Linked DNA regions of Homo sapiens: region 2 is linked to region 1. The links come from fine-mapping of genetic effects on gene expression. A gene starts in region 1. The other region holds a variant in brackets. All regions are shown on one strand. Distances are between the middles of the regions. Region 1 holds the start of IKZF1 (IKAROS family zinc finger 1). Region 2 has its middle 61 kb from the start of IKZF1.

What was found. PIP is the estimated chance that this variant, and not a neighbour inherited with it, causes the effect.
Region 2: its variant is fine-mapped to the expression of IKZF1 in whole blood (INTERVAL, PIP above 0.99).

What each region holds. Positions count from the first base shown.
Region 1 is chr7:50,300,727-50,309,197 of GRCh38, reverse strand. It overlaps IKZF1 (IKAROS family zinc finger 1), which reads right to left and starts at 4,482. Exons shown (of 8, transcript NM_006060.6): 1 at 4,276-4,482. RefSeq lists a silencer at 4,370-5,169 and an enhancer at 6,024-6,525.
Region 2 is chr7:50,239,318-50,247,788 of GRCh38, reverse strand. No RefSeq gene overlaps it. Among named protein-coding and RNA genes, the nearest start is that of IKZF1, 61 kb to the left of the region's middle. The variant G/A (reference allele first, on the strand shown) is at 4,279.

The sequences.
Region 1 (8,471 bases):
ATATGAAGAAAGCACTTTTCCACTAATTAGGACCCATTTTCAGCCATTTGTTAAGCCGTGGCCCCGCGCCACGAGCTATCAGGAGGTGGAGCATGGGGCCATCCGAAAGCAGAGCGTTCAGACGGAGCATAATGATGCTCTCCATCACCCGAGACAGGTGGCCTGCACAGGGATATGGGGAGCTGCTCTGGGCTCAGGCCACCCACTGTGGAAACACCAGCAGGGAAGACGGAAGAACACAATGGCTATTCCAATCCATGCAAGCACACAAAGAAACCGTGTGGCACTCACCAACCAACCGAGGCCTCGCCAAGGCCAAGTGAGAGCTGCCTTTTCCACACAAATCCAGACTTTGAGGACCTAGGGCTGCTCGGAGTTCCCCTCAGACCCAGCCACCTGGGAGGGATCTTGGTGCCTGGCTACAGGGCCTCTGTGTCCTCTTCCTCCTCCAAAAGGTTCCTCTGCTGCCTTCACACTCCACCAGGGTGCAGAGAAAGGTGGAACCACTTGCCAAATATGCAAAAAAGGAGGGAAGACCGTTTTCTCTTAGGAAAACACAGACAGGAAGGGAGCCTGTGCTTCCTGTCCTAACCAAAACGAGTTCAGAAATTATGTGGACGTCTGATTTGTCAGGCTTGTGGTGGAAAAGGGTGCTCTTTTAGTCAACAGGAATTGTGAGTTCCCCAAAGGCAGAAATGGCCATGGGAGAAAAGAATTAAGGCCAGGCCTGTTAACAGGCAAGACAAATGGCCCCCACACCTGTGACCTAGGGTTTGCACCATTTTTAACAGTTTATTACCAGGTGGTTGGCTGAAGGCTCCACTGGCAACTACCTATTTATTATAGTCAAACATGAGAGGGAAAAACGTCAACTGAAACAATTTGGCAGTTGCCTGTAGATTAGGCCTCAGTTGCTCTTCCTCCAGGCCCTTCTCAGGAGTAACCACCAAGGAGACACCAAAATGGGCAGGCCCGCACTTCGCCACTTAAAAACCTTCTGCAAACCTTCTTTTGCTTGCTGTTTTATCTCACTTGTAATATATGGCACTTCATAAGGTTTCATAATGTCTTAAAAAATATTTGTTGGAATATTACCAAACATTTAAAAACTCAAACTAAAGCTACTAAAGTGACGACACTGAAACTTTAAGGACATAAACATATATTCCAGGAGATGTGGAAAGGTAACCTGAGATATGAAGTCATTTATTAAACTGCAAAGAAATACAAGAAAGCCATGGTCCACATGAAGACACCAGCATGAGTGTTCAGTCAGCACTACAGTAAAAACAGCTTTGTTACTGTCGATATCCTTTGGTTTTAGGTGCTCTGCGTCCCTAACAAAACCTCATTCCTATCTTGTTCCTCATCTGAATTTTAAGTGTGTGTGTGTGTGACAGTGTGTATAATGCTGATCCTCTGAAACTCTACGTTTCTAAGACCTAGATCAAAAATGTACATGTGCCCTTTTTGAGCAAAATAAAACTGATCTGTTTTCAAGACGTGAAATAGATTAATGTTTCTCTTCTTGTAAGCTTCAAAGGATGGGTCACTTGTTGCTTTTACATCTTGTGTTTTCTCCCATAAAATGGAATGATTATTCAGCACAAATATGAAATGGAATAGAGCTGAAGTCTCTGTAGTTATGAACATAGAGACACCAGAGAGAGAACAATGTTCACAGCCAGGACAGGAGCTGCAGCAACTCTGCCGCTAGAAGCAGGCGTCACAGTGCCCCCAGAGTGCTTGTCAGTCTTAGAAACAGAGGCATCGGAAGACAAGCGTTTTCAGAGAACGCAAAAAGGTCGTGGTTTACCTTCTGTAAGCTGGAGTGGAGCCACTTACATCAATCTCCCTTAGAATATGACAAGAACCAACATTTATTTCATAGTGAAATTATTTCACAAGTCCAAAGATTAGAGGAGGAAAAAAAAAATGCCACAAAACAGTGATATCCTTGATGAATTCTTCGTTAACCACAGTTACATTACATTAATACGTACAATTATGCAACACTCAAAAAACGTTATTTATGCCTAAAATTCACCATTATATAACATAGGGAAATCCATCTTGTTTTAGTAAAAGTTTAAAAATAAAGGGGGCCTTTAATACTCATTTCAGGTCTGTTTGATGTTAAAACTCTTCCACACTGCCCCATGCCTCTCACTCCACGCTGTGTGCATGCTGTGTGTGTGCACGCTCTGTGTGCATATGTGCATATGCACATGGAATTTATTTCATGTATCTGTTAATAAATGCATAATCTTGAAGTGTGTGTATAAGTACATTAATATATAGAGAGTTCTTTCCTATTTCAAAATTTTTGACATTTATATTGAAAATATGCTATATTAACCACGCATGAAACACACACATCCAAATCAAGAACAAAAAATGTATCCAAACCAAAGAACCACTGTTCTCAAACTCCAAGTCTCTAGTCAAACAAGGAAGACAGTGGCCTGCAGTACAACAGGGCTTTAGACCTCTTGGCTAATACATTCACTGCGATCTTAGTTTTTCGACAAAGGAAATGGCTACAAACGGCCACAGCTGATCTTCTCTTTAGGAGCCTGTGTAAAACTCTTCGAAAGGGTCAAACCTAACACATCCAGACTTTTATCTGCAGCCCTTGTGGTCTCCTGGAGACCCTGAGGGTGGGTGATTATTGCTATGATGTTTCTGCATTAGGGGGGTGTGTAGTTTTCCAAGAGGTACCACTCTAATTAGAACACTGATGAATTAAACAAGTACTGGAGAGTTTCTAAACTCCTTCCTTCAACTCTCACCGTGAAACAAAAGGGGAAGAAAACATGACCATTTAGTTCAATAAAATGTTCTGGTCACCAGCTCTGATTGACTGTGAGACTTAAGAGTCACGTTTTTTTTCATGTAAAAAATGTATGAAATATGTTCATGGTGAAATTGGAAATCAGATACATTCCATCAAGCAAGAATAGTGTAGTATTTTTAATGTGACATCATTATTTGTATGTGTACACATTATTTCTTTAACTTGTTCTGCATTTTACAAGATGCCAGCGTAAGAAGGTGAATCTTCTTGTCATGAATATTTGCCTCGTGTACATTTTAAGCCATAGCCCAAATGATCTGATTTGTCACGGAAATAATTCTGACACATTCTAATATAAATAATACTGAAATTGTTACTTTTTAAAATTCCATATAAAAGATGAGTACAATAAAACTCATTGAACAAACATCTTCAAACAAAGAAATAAACTCAAGAGGACCCAGGACATTTCTATGTGGGTCCCCCCCACCCCTCGACTCATAACCAAATTGAACCTGGCCTTAAAAGCATTTGAATGTCTATGAAAGTTTAAATATCATACGCAGTATTTTCAAATTCCATAAATTTTCCTCTTTTAACAGAAGTTGATGGGACTAGTAAGGAGACATTTCCTCAACACCATTTTGTCTGGAATTTTAAAACAAGGTATCTCAAAGCTGAAATATACTGCCTGCGGCGCAGTGGGAAATTGTGAGTGGGTAACCTAAGCAAAGCGCACCGCATTGAAATTCAGTCTGGGTGGGCTGCAGTCCCTAGAGAGAGGGAAGCTGCATTTGAAAGCTGTGCCTGGTCAGACCCTATGGAATCGCTACGGTTTTCGGTCATTAGATGCCTCCAAATTAGAAGGAAAAACAAGCCCTCACGAGGTTCCTTAGGCATCAGCAGCGATGCTTGACAAATATTTAAAATACATTTCAAATATAACCGCAAGTAACCTGATGCCTTAATATTACTAAGGGTTTTCCTGAGAAGGTTTGGTGACTTGAGCGTCAAACCTGCGGTCAGCAAAAGGACTAACTTTTCAAAGCCGGGATAATTCCTCTCTTGCAGAAATTAAGTTCAGACTCGATCTCATCATATTTATAGTATAAAAAGAAAGCTCCCGGCTCAAATATAAGGAAAACTCTTTACACACGACTTTATAAAGGCTGACTTCCGTGGGTATATGTAGGTCTACATAAATTTAAATATGGTTGGGAGCTAGAACTCCTCTCCTGGTGACAGCGGGGCTGCTCAGAAGTGTCCCATGTCGGCCTGGTCCTGCACCTGCTGGCACAGTGCAGAGCAACAGACGCTTGACAGAAGTGAACTCTCTCACTGTCCTCAGAAAAGAGAGGCGGACCTGAGCGACACCAGGGTCTACCAACCTTACCGCTTTTCTTTACTGTGTTTTTTTTTTTTTAAATTCACCAGTTACCCCAAGTTTTCCTATTGAAATTCAATTTGAAAACACTCACGTGGATTTGTGCGTCGCGCTTTGGGGCCAAGACTGATCCTCGGGTGCGAAGAGCAACCTCGGAGCCGGGGCTCCCTCTGCCCTGCCAGGCTTGCCCGCCTCGCCGCGGCCGAGCGTCCCGCCCAGGCTGGGATGCGCCGCGCGGGGACCCAGGGGGCTTGCCGCAGTCACCGCCCCGGGCGCGGGCCGCGCAGTCACTTGTTAGAGTGTCCTGCTAACTTGGCCGCGGAGCTCTTCCCAGCTTTCTTTCACAATGACTTCCTGAAGTTGCTCACTCGCATTGTTCCCCATTTCTCCGCCACACTCCCCGCCCCCAGCCGGCTCAGACCAGGCTTTCGCGCTCCCGGCCGACCGGCTGCCCCGCGCGCACAGCGCCGCCCGCGGGCCCCGTACCTGGCCCCCTCCGCGCCGGCCGCCCCCGCCGCGCCCTTGCGTTGCCACCAGCTGCCGCCCAGAGCGGCGGGTGGCCAGAGCGCGCGCCCTGCCACCCCGCAAACTTTGGGGTGACGCACGCTGGCGGTCCCTGCTCGACCTGCCCCGCAGCCGGCTCGGCCCCGCGCGCACCTCTCGGCCGCCTCCCGGATCGCTGCTCCGGTACAGGGAGCGGGGCGCGCAGAAGGGCGCAGAGCGGGACACGGAGAGGGTGCGTCGTCCCGTCCCCGCCCCGTCGCCGAGTCCCCCGGCTCGCGCGGCGCGCGTCTCAGCCGCAACTCCGGGCCAGAGGGGCCGCGCACGAAAACTTTGCAATCGCGCCGGGCTCCGGCTCAGCCCCCAAAGGCCGCCGGGGCGGCGGCGGGTGCGGGCCGTACCTGCTGGCGCCGCCGCCGGCTGCAGCCCGCTCGCCCGCGCCGGGCCCGCTCGGCGCGCCGCCGCCACCCCCGCGCGCACCGCGCCCGGGCCCTCCCCTCGCCGCCGCGCTTCCTCATTCCAGCGCAGCATCGCGCCGCGGCCCCGCACGGGATGCGGCGGCCGGCGCTGTGTCCGCGGGCCGGGCAGCCCGGCTCGGCCGCGGCGCTGCGGGACCCGCGCGTAACCCGTGGGGGCGCGGCGCGGGCGACACGTGCGGGCCGCCAGGAGGGGGAGGGGGACGCGCGCCGCCGGGCCCGCCACCCTGCACCCGGGGCCGCTGGTCGGTCGGGGCACCCTCACGCTCGCCCCGCTGGCGAGACTGGAGGGACTCGGGACATCGTAAAGCACTTTCCCCAGTGTCTGGGAGCGCCCGCTGTACGCTCAGCTTCACGTCCCTGGAACTGGGGCCCCTTGGCTCCCGGGTTCAGGCTCCGGCCCCAGGATGCGAGTGCCCACCCGAGGGGGTGGGAAAAGTTGATCCTCCGCAAGGGAGGGGAAGGTGCAATTCATTTTCCCAGACAACCAATGGAATACCTCTCGTCTCTCTTCCCTCCCACCTGCTCACGGCAGAAGTTAGGATGGCGCCTTCCATGTTGGCCTGGGTGCACACACAAGTGCGTGCGGAAGGGTGGCTGCAGGCGGAGGTGACAGCGAAGCAATCCCGCAGCCCGCTCGACGGCTCTTTGCGTCTCAGACCTCTCCCTGGCGTGTAAGACACCGTGTGTCTCCGTAAAACGGGAATGCCACATCTGACAGCGCACCCCTTCGCCCTACGGGGAGCCCCTCACTCTAATTAGCCGGGCTCCACCCGAGCAGGAGCCAGCAATGTGTTCAGCTTGAGCAGGAGAGAAAAAGTCATGAATTCCACAAATGCAGCCTGGGCTCCCGCCAGGCGCTAGGGGAGGGGACCCAGAGGAGTGAGATGCGCCTCCTGCCCTTCCAGACTTGTAGGAGCCACCAGGAAGGCACAGAATAAAAATCCCGGGCACCCCTGTGAGGAGGAGCGCCCTGTGAAGAGGGCCGAGAACGTGCTCCTGCTTGGGCGCGGTGGTTCGGGAAGGCGTGAAGACCCATAGGGAGAGCGATGAAAGACCAAGGGAGCCTCCTCAGGGTAGGACATGCAGGCGAAGAAGGCACAGGCCTTCCGGGTGGAGGACACAGCCGGGCAAGGGAATAAGCAGGAAATGTCCCTTCAGGGCAGTTGAGTGTGGCTGGAGACCATCGCTGCCGGGGAAGGTCTTGGCCTGGCCCAGGAGGCCTCCAAGTCGGGGGCCAGGGCACACCAGAGACAGGATCTGCCTCTGCTGCCTCTGGGAGAAGGCCCTTTACCCGTGAATCACAAACAGCGTCTATCCACATTCTCCCTGAGCGCATATGCAGCTCTTACTACAGTACTCAGTGTGTCCTGAAGGGCATTCCGCTGGGCAAGTCTGAGCCAGTTAACTCACTGCTACAGCCCAGAGAAGGGGAAGGTAGTGAAAGGTCCATTGATTTACCTTCTAGTCCTCTCCTCCACTGCGTGACCTTGGGCAGGTTATCCAAACTCCTGAGCATCATCTTCCTTGTCTATAAAAAGAATACATGCCACCAATCCTAAAGACTCCTTACCTGGATTAAATGAGGCAATAAACATAAGGTACAAGGCCCAGAGGGAGGCCAACAATGTTGTAAAGGGGACACGGGACACCTCTAGTTCTTGGATGCAGAAGTACCTTTAGCCGCTGGTACGTCTCTCTAAACCTGTGCCTTGGTCTTCAGGAGTGGACCAGTGGACCGAAACATAGGCATCTCACCAAGGTGTAGCCCACTGAGGCAGGAGCATGTGGGGCTAAGAGCCCAGATAGTTTGGGCTTATGAATCTGACTGAGGTCCTTAATCTCTCAAAGCCTGAATTTCCCCATCTGTAAATTGGTGGTGATAATATAACCCTCCTGGTGGGGTTGTTTGTGGGTTAAGGAGATCACATATGGAAGACCTTGCCACATGCCTGACAGAGAGGAGTACTTTCCAAGTAAGAACAGTTATTCCCTGCTAGCCCAACCAATGTCCCAATGAGATGAGGAGTGCACTGTGAAGAGTCAGGCTCCTTGGCTGGGTGCAGTGACTCACACCTGAGTTTGGAGCCCAAGGTGGGAAGATCACTTCAAGCCAAGAGTTCCAGACCAGCCTGGGCAACAAAGCAAGACCCTGTTTGTACAAAAAAATTTTAAACTTTAAAAATCAAACCCCATTTGTATTAAAAATTTAAAAATTAGGTGTTATGGTATGCACCTGCAGTCCCAACAACCTACTTAGGAGGCTGAGGCAGGAGGATCCCTTGAGCCCAGAAGTTTGAGGCTGCAGTGAGCCATGATTGACACCACTGCACTCCAGCTTGGGCGACACAGCAAGACCCTGTCACAAAACAAAACAAAACAGCAGTCAGGCTGCAGGTACCATGCCTTACCCTTGCCCCCAACCGGGTGGAGTTGAAGGAAGTCAAGCTTATATTATTATAACCTGGGGTCTGTGGATAGACTCAGAGGGACCAGAGAGGTGATATAAATCAAATGTTCAAACCCTTAGGGACAACAGTAAAATGCACAATGGATGGGAAAACATATAGGGAGAAATTGGAACATGTAAAACTGTTTTTTTTCATATTATGTCTAAAGTCATTTTATTTTATTTACATATTAATTCATATATTGCCCTCTTCATAATGTTAAAGTATTAAATAAAACACTTTAATTTATTCAGGCAATAATTGCTAAATCACCAATTTTTCTTCTTATGAGGCTGTATTATCGAAAGAATAGAGACCACCTATAGGATTAATCAAAGGCTACTTATTCAGAGCTCACTATGGAAAGAGAGGCAGCTAGGCACTTTTGTCCAGGTAGAGCCTGGATGGGATTTTCAAAAGAGAGTGAGTTTTTTACTTTCAAAGGAAAGTAAAAGGATGATTGAGGTGATACGATATGGTTAATAGTTTTGTTTCTTAGTAACTGTGTTTGGCAAGTTGTTTAAAGCCTGAGCTTCAGTTTCTCATCCGCAGAGCACATCTACTTCACAATGGTCTTGATAGAATTACGTGAAATTCAATGAAATAATCTATGGAAGTTATCATAATTGTATTTTTCTTCAATAAAAAAAGATCTGTTAACAGCAATGAAAAGTGCATGTCTCCTCTGATGGTTGGAAAACAGCAAGAATATTTTTAAATAACAGCAAAAGGTTTTTTTTGCTAAAAAATAAAATTTTATTTTATTTATATACCCAGGACTTGGATGAAACTGTTGCAACAAAGACACTGTTTCTTTGGTTTCTTTTTCCCAGTTTTCATGACTTCCAGCTTCTGCCTCTGCT
Region 2 (8,471 bases), 61 kb after region 1:
TGCTCTACTTTCTGTCGCTAAAATTTTGAGTACTCTAACTACGTTATCTTTTTGTGACTAGTTTCTTTTACTTAGCAAAATATCCTTAAGATTCATCCATGTTGTAGTACATGTCAGAATTTCCTTCCTTTTGAAGGCTGAATAACATTTCATTGCATGTAAAGACCATGTGTTTATACCTTCACCTATGGATGGACATGGGTTACTCCTAAGTTTTAGCAATTGTGAATAGTGCTGCTATGGACATGGATGTACAGAGATCTCTTTGAGATTCTACTTTCAGTTCTTTTGAGTATAACCCAGAAGTAGGATTTCTAAATCATATGGTAATTCTATTTTTAATTTTTTTGAAGAACTGGCATATTGTTTTTCACAGTGGCTATACTACTTGACATTCCCACCAGCAAAAGAGTACCAAATCTTCACATCCTCACCAACACTTGCTATTATTATTATTTTTGATATTGGCCATCTTGATGGGTGTGATGTGCCTATGTGTTTTGATATGTAGTTTTTGAAGTAATGTTTATTTAACAATTTAATAATGTTCCAAAAGTTATATATTCTTCAATAGAGGAGTTATTTGGAAGTGTAATTTAAATTTCACAGGTTATATATATTTCAGTTATTTTTTAAATAAATTACATTCATGTCTGTACTTAAGATTTGCTTGTTTCTAACACCTAAAATTAAATGTTGTTATTATTTCTATTATTATTTTGTCATACAGTCAATAGTTATTTAGATTTACCCATCAGATTTACTAATGTATTTACTTATTATTTTTTCTTACAGGTTAGATTTTCCATCTGAGTTCATATTTCTTATTTAAAAAAACACCTTTAGAATTTCTCTTCAGTTGGTGTCTATAGATCCATTTTTGTTTATCTGAGAACATTTTCTATTTTTCCTCTGTATTCTAGAGTTTTACTAGATGTACAACTCTAGATAGATCTTTCTGCCAGCACCTCCGTGATATTATTCCATTGTCTTCTGGTTTCCATTACTGCTGTTGCAAAGTCAGCTGTCAGTGGAATTGCCATTTAATTTCAGGTTTTTGTCTTTTCTTTGACTAATTTTCAGATCTTTACTTTGTCTTTGGTGTTCTGAAACATCAGCACTTTGTATCTAGGTATGAATTTTATTTTATTTATTTTGTTTGAGATTATCTGGGCTACCTGAATGTTAAGAGAAACGTCTAATAATCAGCTCTTGAATATTTTCAACCATTACCACAAAAGATATTGTCCTATTTCTCTCCTACTAGACTCTGAATGAATGTTAAACCATCATAATCTATTTTCCATGTCTCTTAATAACCTCTCTTTATATTTAGCATCTCATTTTCTTTATGTGCATAGTCTAAATAATTTCTTAAGATTTAAGTATCAGATAAATAATTATTCAGCTATATATAATTTGTTTTCTATTGTACTTCAAATTGAAATACTTTAAGAAATTTTTAGAAGTTTGATATACTTTTATTTTCTAACATGCCTAATCATATTTTCATATCACTGGTTGTTACTCATGATACCCTATTTCCTTTTGCTTTTGATGTTCCTTTGACATTTATCTGTGGGAAAATTCTGGGAGAAATGAATTGAAATGGGTTTTCTTGGAAAGAATTTGTGTTTCCTTCTAGGAAATTATGGGTACTATTAATCTGAGACAGCTTGAATTCCTGGCTTTAAATTTTTCAGGCAATACAGATAGCCAGAATTTGAGTTTGAAAATGCATGTGAATGTCATCTAGGAACAATGAAATCTCAGTAGAGATATTTATCCTTTTACATAGTGTCATTGTCAAGGTAGGCAACTTTTACTTTTGTGTCCTTAAATGAGGTAATTTTGTTTCTAAATTGCCCTATCCTTCTGTCTTTTGACTTTAAGTAGACATCTCTTTGGTGCCCCAACTTGGGAAAGTACTAGGCTTATTTCTTGTTCCTTGTGCTCCAAGTGTAGACATGAAACCAGAAAGTTAACTTCAGTAGGATTCAACTGATGCTTCTGGGAAAAAGACAGCTTAAGTACTTGCTTATGTCATTGGATTCTTTTTTTAATTATTTATTTGATTTTGAGAAATACATTAAATATATTTTAAAATATGTTTTATATTGTATTTTGTTTGTTCCATGGGAGAGTATCTCAGGACATTCTACCATAATGCCAGAAATGGAATTCAGTTTTTAAAAGCAATTTTCATGGACCTCAAAAATTGAATATTTAATCACACTTCCAAGTTTATGATACACTATAACCATTAGTCCACCCCATTGTCATTGTTCTCCTCATGTAGACAATCAACATCATGTGTTCAACATGTATTTTGGAGGTGTTCTTTCAAAATGTGCATTGCTAACTGTGTGCATGGTAACAGGTGCATCACACACATGTTATAATCTCATTTTCTTTATTACTTTTTCGTAGTAAGTGCTATTTTTAAAGATTTCTCTGTGTCTGCCTATGTACATCTAATCTGTTTCTTCTAACTGTTAAGTAATGCTCCATTGCAAATACCCACCACATTTTACTGATCCATTCTTCTTGCATAAATTTCATTGTGGTATTCAACTGTATATTTTCTTGTGCCGCCATAGTGAAAGCTATAGGGAACATCTTGATACTCGTGCTGTTGAGAATTCCTGGGTTATATCTGGGGTATGATTATACTTAATTTAACTAATGGTACCAGATTGCTCTCTGCAATCACTAAAGTCAGTCTATACCTCCACAAGCCATGCAAGAGAGGATGTGCATTCCACATAATCTCCAAATGCTTTACTCTATCTTGCTTTCTAATTTTGTTACCTATAAGTCTTGTCCACGGTTCCTGCTACTGAACAGAAATATTTAGCTTTTGTATGCTCCATTGGCAGTTTTCTTTACTTAAGGTTTATGCTTTTGTTACCCTTCTAGATCACTAAGATACTGCTGTACATTTTTCTTAGTCAGACTTTGTTGTTTCTTCTTTTACATTTAAATCTTTAATTCAGCTCAATCTGGGCTATTCACTTAGTAGCCAAGAGTCACATGTAGCTACCAAACACTTGAAGGTAGCTAGTACAACTAAGAAACTAAATTTTAATTTTGTTTGGTTTTAATTACTTTAAACTTAAAAACTTAATCAGTGTAAAATCATACATAATGTATTGTTTTGAGTTTAACTATTGCACCATGTAAGATATTGCTTTATTGTGGTGTATGTGCTGGGCACATGCATTATTTCTGTTGGCAGACATAAACATTACCAATATAATTGGCATAAAACAATTTTTTTAGTCCAAATGATTTTTTCTATGTGCTGATGTAACATTGTAGATTGTTTATTTTAATATATTGCAAAAGCATCAAGACTTAGAGTGATGCCTAAGTAAATTATAATCAGTAATTACATTAAAAATTATATTATTATTTGATATAGTTTGTTTTTTTCAGTGTAAAAATAATATTAACAAATTTTTACATTTAAAATAAAATCACACTACTGCTACAGATTCAAATGCAGATGCAGATGTGTGTAATACAATGGGAAACATTTTTAAAAAGACAAAGATTGGAAAAAAGTATGTCACAAATTTCATAATAAATAACAATTACAAATTGTTGTATCAGTAAAAAAAGCAAGTTTTAAAGATAATAAGGTAGATAATATTAAGAGATGTTTTCAGCACATACATAGTGAATTTAATAAGATGCTTCCTCTCAATAGTCAAAAAAGCATTGACAATAATTAACTGAAATCAGAATTAAATGATCAACACAAAACTTTTAAATGATTTTCATCAGAAACTGGGCTTATAACTTTGGCTAGCTATAAACTGAATTAAATTATTGAACAGGGAAAATCATTTTTAGTCAGAAAGACGGCAAAAATCATGATTAATTTATGAAAAATTTGTTAGAAAGTTGTAAGAAAAAGACTAAAAAAGATATTTTACTGTAAGCAAAAGACCTGTAGCTAAGCCACAGAAAATTTGCCCATAAAGTGCAATACCTTTCTCACAATATCAAAGATTAACTGATTCAACATTTTAAAAACTGTCAGTACCTCTGGATGCATCTTGTGATATGAGATGCTACTCAACTAATGCTTTGAATATATTTTGTCTCAAAAAACTACCAAATTTATGTAGAAATACTATCAATTCACAATCTAAAAATTTAAACTTGTGATATAAATACTGTTGAATCTTTTGAATTTTTCAAAGAAGGATTTCAGATAGATATGAAAAAGTCAATTTCTATCACAACAGAGTATTCCAGCTATGTTAGGTC[G/A]AAAATCTGAATTCACTAGAATTTTAAAATGAGAGACTGATATTTCCTTTATTGCTTCATTCCACAGTATGTAAGTATTGAAAATACTTTTGTTTAGTTTCATGAAGCTTTTAACTTCTGTTAAAGGTATTATGAATGTAGAATTGCAATCTACAGCATAATGTAAAATGGCTGCAAAGCATACAGGAAAAGTTTGGAGTATGCTTTGTTGATATGGATAATTATGGTACAATAACCTCTTTGATTTTATGTTAATGATGCTTACTGATACATGAGTTAATGAAATTATTTAACTTGGACAGACATACTATTGGTACCAATATGCTTTTTCTTCAAGTTAAATCGATTTTTAAAAAATAAGTGGATTAATTTTACCAATGTGGATTCAAACATTAAACAAAAGTGATTTTTATTTCATGCACAATTTAATTGTTGAAAATTTATTAAGTATGTTTAGAACAGCTTGGATACATGAATCAACTGTAAATTTCAACTGTAAATTTTCTGAAATCTAACATAGATAAATTGTTTCCAGTGAGATTTAGAGATGGATCAAAATGGGTTGTAAGTGTAAAATACACACCATATTTTGAAGCCTTAGAATAAAAAGAGGTAAAATGTATCAATAAGTTTTAAAATATTGATTACATGTTTAAATAATAATATTTTGGACACATTGGGTTAAATAAAATATATTACTAAAGTTAGTATACCTGTTTCTTTTTACTTTTTAAAATATGACAATTAGAAAATTTACAGTTACATCTACCTCTCACTTTATATTTCTATCGGGTAACATTGACCTAAAGCACTCATTTTAGAGAGCTAGTTTATTTTTCTTTATGTCATGGATCAGTTTTCCCAAAACTATCTTCTAAAAAATCTCCCACTTATTTTTGTATACTACCTTTATTGACCATACACACGTTGGTCTCCCTCTGAACTCTATTCTGTGCCATTGGTCTAGGTTTCTATTATTTTGCTTACCCTTCATGGATTTGTAGTATTTGTAGTGTGGTGTAATATTTCTGTGTTTATGTAAATCTCTTTCTTTCCCTCTTTCTTTCTCCTTTCCTTTCCTTTTGTTCTTTCATTCTTTCTCCCTTCCTCCCCCTCTTTCTCTCTTTCTCCCTTTCTCTCCTCCTCCCTTCCTTCCTCTTTCTCTCCTCCTCCCTTCCTTCCTCTCTTTCTTTCTTTCCTTCTTTTTTTCTTTCTTTCTTTCTTTCTTTCCTTCTTTCTCTCTCTCTTTCTTTCTTTCTTTTTTCCTTCCTTCCTTCCTTCTTTCCTTCCTTCCTTCCTTCTTTCCTTCCTTCCTTCCTTCCTTCCCTTCCTTCCTTCCTTCCTTTTATTGAACAGAACTACTATGAATAATGACAATTGACTGTATAAGTAATTGGTTTTTGCTAGTGTTTAGAAACACTATTGAATTTTTCAGATTAAGTTTGTCTACAGAAAAGTTGGCAAATACTATTTTTAGTCTTAATAGTTTCTTTGATAATTCTGTTGCAATTCCTGCATAAAGTAATCATGTTATACAAAAATAAGCATACCATTATGTCTTCTCTCCAAGTCCTACACCAAAACCAGGTTAAATGGTAATGATGGTTATGGCTATTATTTTCTGTTGCCAATTTAAATAAAATACATCCACATTTCCTTCATCAAGTAGATGTATACTCTAAATTGTTTTTTTTAATAAAATTAATGAAGCTCTGTTCTATCTCAAGGCTATTTTTCTCCATTTTATTGAAATAATTATATTTTTTTCTTAGTATATTAAGATTGCAGATTGCATTATAAATTTTCTGATATTAAATCATACCTGTACTCCTGGGATTTTAATGATAATATTTTATTTATTTATTTTTATTTAAATAGTTTTTGGGGTACAGGTGGTTTTTGGTTACATGGATGAGTTCTTTAGTGGTGAGTTCTAAGATTTTAGTGCACCTGTCACCTGAGCAGTGTACACTGTAGCCAATATGTAGTATTTTATTCCTCAACCACCTCCCATCCTCCCCATGTCCCAAGTCCTCAAAGTCCATTGTATTGCTCTGTATGTCTTTGCATCCTCATAGCTTATCTTCCACTTACAAGTGAGAACATGTGGTATCTGGTTTTTAATTCCTAAGTTACTCACTTAGAGTAATGGCCTCCAGTTCCATCCAAGTTGCTGAAAAAGACATTATTTTGTACCTTTTTTTTATGGCTGAGTAGTCTGAATAGTATTCCATGGTGTCAATATACCACATTTTTTTTAATCCACTAGCTGGTCAATGGGCACTTAGATTGGTACAATATCCTTGCAATTGTGAGTTGTGCTGCCACAAACATGAATGTGCATGTTTGTTTTTCACATAATGGCTTCATTTCCATTGAGTAGCTACCCAGTTGTGGGATTGCTGGATTGAATGGTAGTTCTACTTTTAGTTCTTTAAGGAATCTTCATACTGTTTTCCATAGAGGTTGTACTAATTTACATTCCCTCCAGCAATATAAAAGTGTTGCCTTTTCACCACATCCAAGCCAACATCTATTGTTTTTTGACTTTTTAATTATGACTATTCTTGCAGGAGTAAGGTGGTGTCTCATTGTGGTTTTAATTTGCATTTGTTTGATGATTAGTGATGTTAAGCATTTTTTCATGTGTTTGTGGGCTGTTTGTATATCCTCTTTTGAGAATTGTCTATTCATGTCCTTTGCCCACTTTCTGATGAAATTATTTGTTTTTTTCTTGCTGATTTGTTTGAGTTCTTTGTAGATTCTGGATACTAGTCCTTTGTTGGAGGCATACTTTGTGAATATTTTCTCCCACTCTGGATTATGTGTTTACTCTGCTGATTGTTTCTTTTGCTGTACGGAAGCTCTTTAGTTTAATTAGGCCACATTTATTTATTAATTTTTTGGCATTTGCTTTTGGAGTCTTAGTCATGAATTCTTTGCCTAAGCCAATGTCCAGAAGAGTTTTCCCAATGTTATCTTCTAGAATTTTTGTGGTTTCAAGTCTTAAATTTAACTCTTTGCTCAATCTTGAGTTGATTTTTGTATAGGGTGAGAGATGGCAATCCAGTTTCATTCTTCTATATGTGGCTTACCAGTTTCCCAGCACCATTTATTTAATAGGGTGTCCTTTCCCCAATTTATGTGTTTGTATACTTCATTAAAGATCAGTATTTTGTTTATTTCTGGGTTCTCTACTCTGTTTATTTCTGGGTTCTCTATTCTGCTCCATTGGTCTAAGTTCCTATTTTTATATCAGTACCATGCTGTTTTGGTAATGGTAGCCTCGTAATATAATTTGAAATCCAGTAATGTGATGCCTCCAGATTTGTTCTTTTTGCTTAGTATTGCTTTGACTATGTGAGTTCTTTTTTGGTTCCATATGAATTTTAGTAATTTTTTTCTAGTTTTGCAAAGAATGATGATGGTATTTTGATGGGCGTTGCATTGAATCTGTAGATTGCTTTGGGCAGTGTGGTCATTTCCACAATATTGATTCTCTCTATCCATGAGCATGGGCTGTGTTTTCACTTGTTTGTGTCATCTGCGATTTCTTTAAGCAGGGTTTTGTAGTTCTCTTTGTAGAGACCCTTCACCTGCTTGGTTAAGTATACTCCAAAGTATTTAATTTAATTAAATTAATTAATTTATTTATTTTTTGCAGCTATTGTAAAAGGGATTGAGTTCTTGATTTGATTCTTAGCTTGGTTGCTGTTGGTTACAGCAGTGCTACTGATTTGTGTACATTGATCTTTCCCAATTTGGATGCCTTTTGTTGCTTTCTGTTGACTGATTGCTCTGGCTAGGACTTCTAGTATTATATTGAATAGAAGTGGTGAAAGTGGGCATTCTTGTGTGACAATATTTTAAACACACTATTATATTTAGTTCGTTATATTTTATTTAACATTTTTGCTTCTATATTCATAAGTAACATGGATCTATAAATTTTTGCTTTTTTATTTGCATGGACTTTATATTTTGTTTGGAAACCAAGAATACACTAACTTTACAAAATATATGGGACCTTTTTTATTCAAGCCTGGAACCACTATTTCCTCAAAGTTTGGTAGGTCTGATTCAAAGTCAAATGTATAAGTTAATCATATCAAATTATGAGACTGTATAGGACAAAAGGTGTCTTTAAAATTTTACTAATGTCAGTGTTATTGATAATTTGTTTAGTTTGTTTC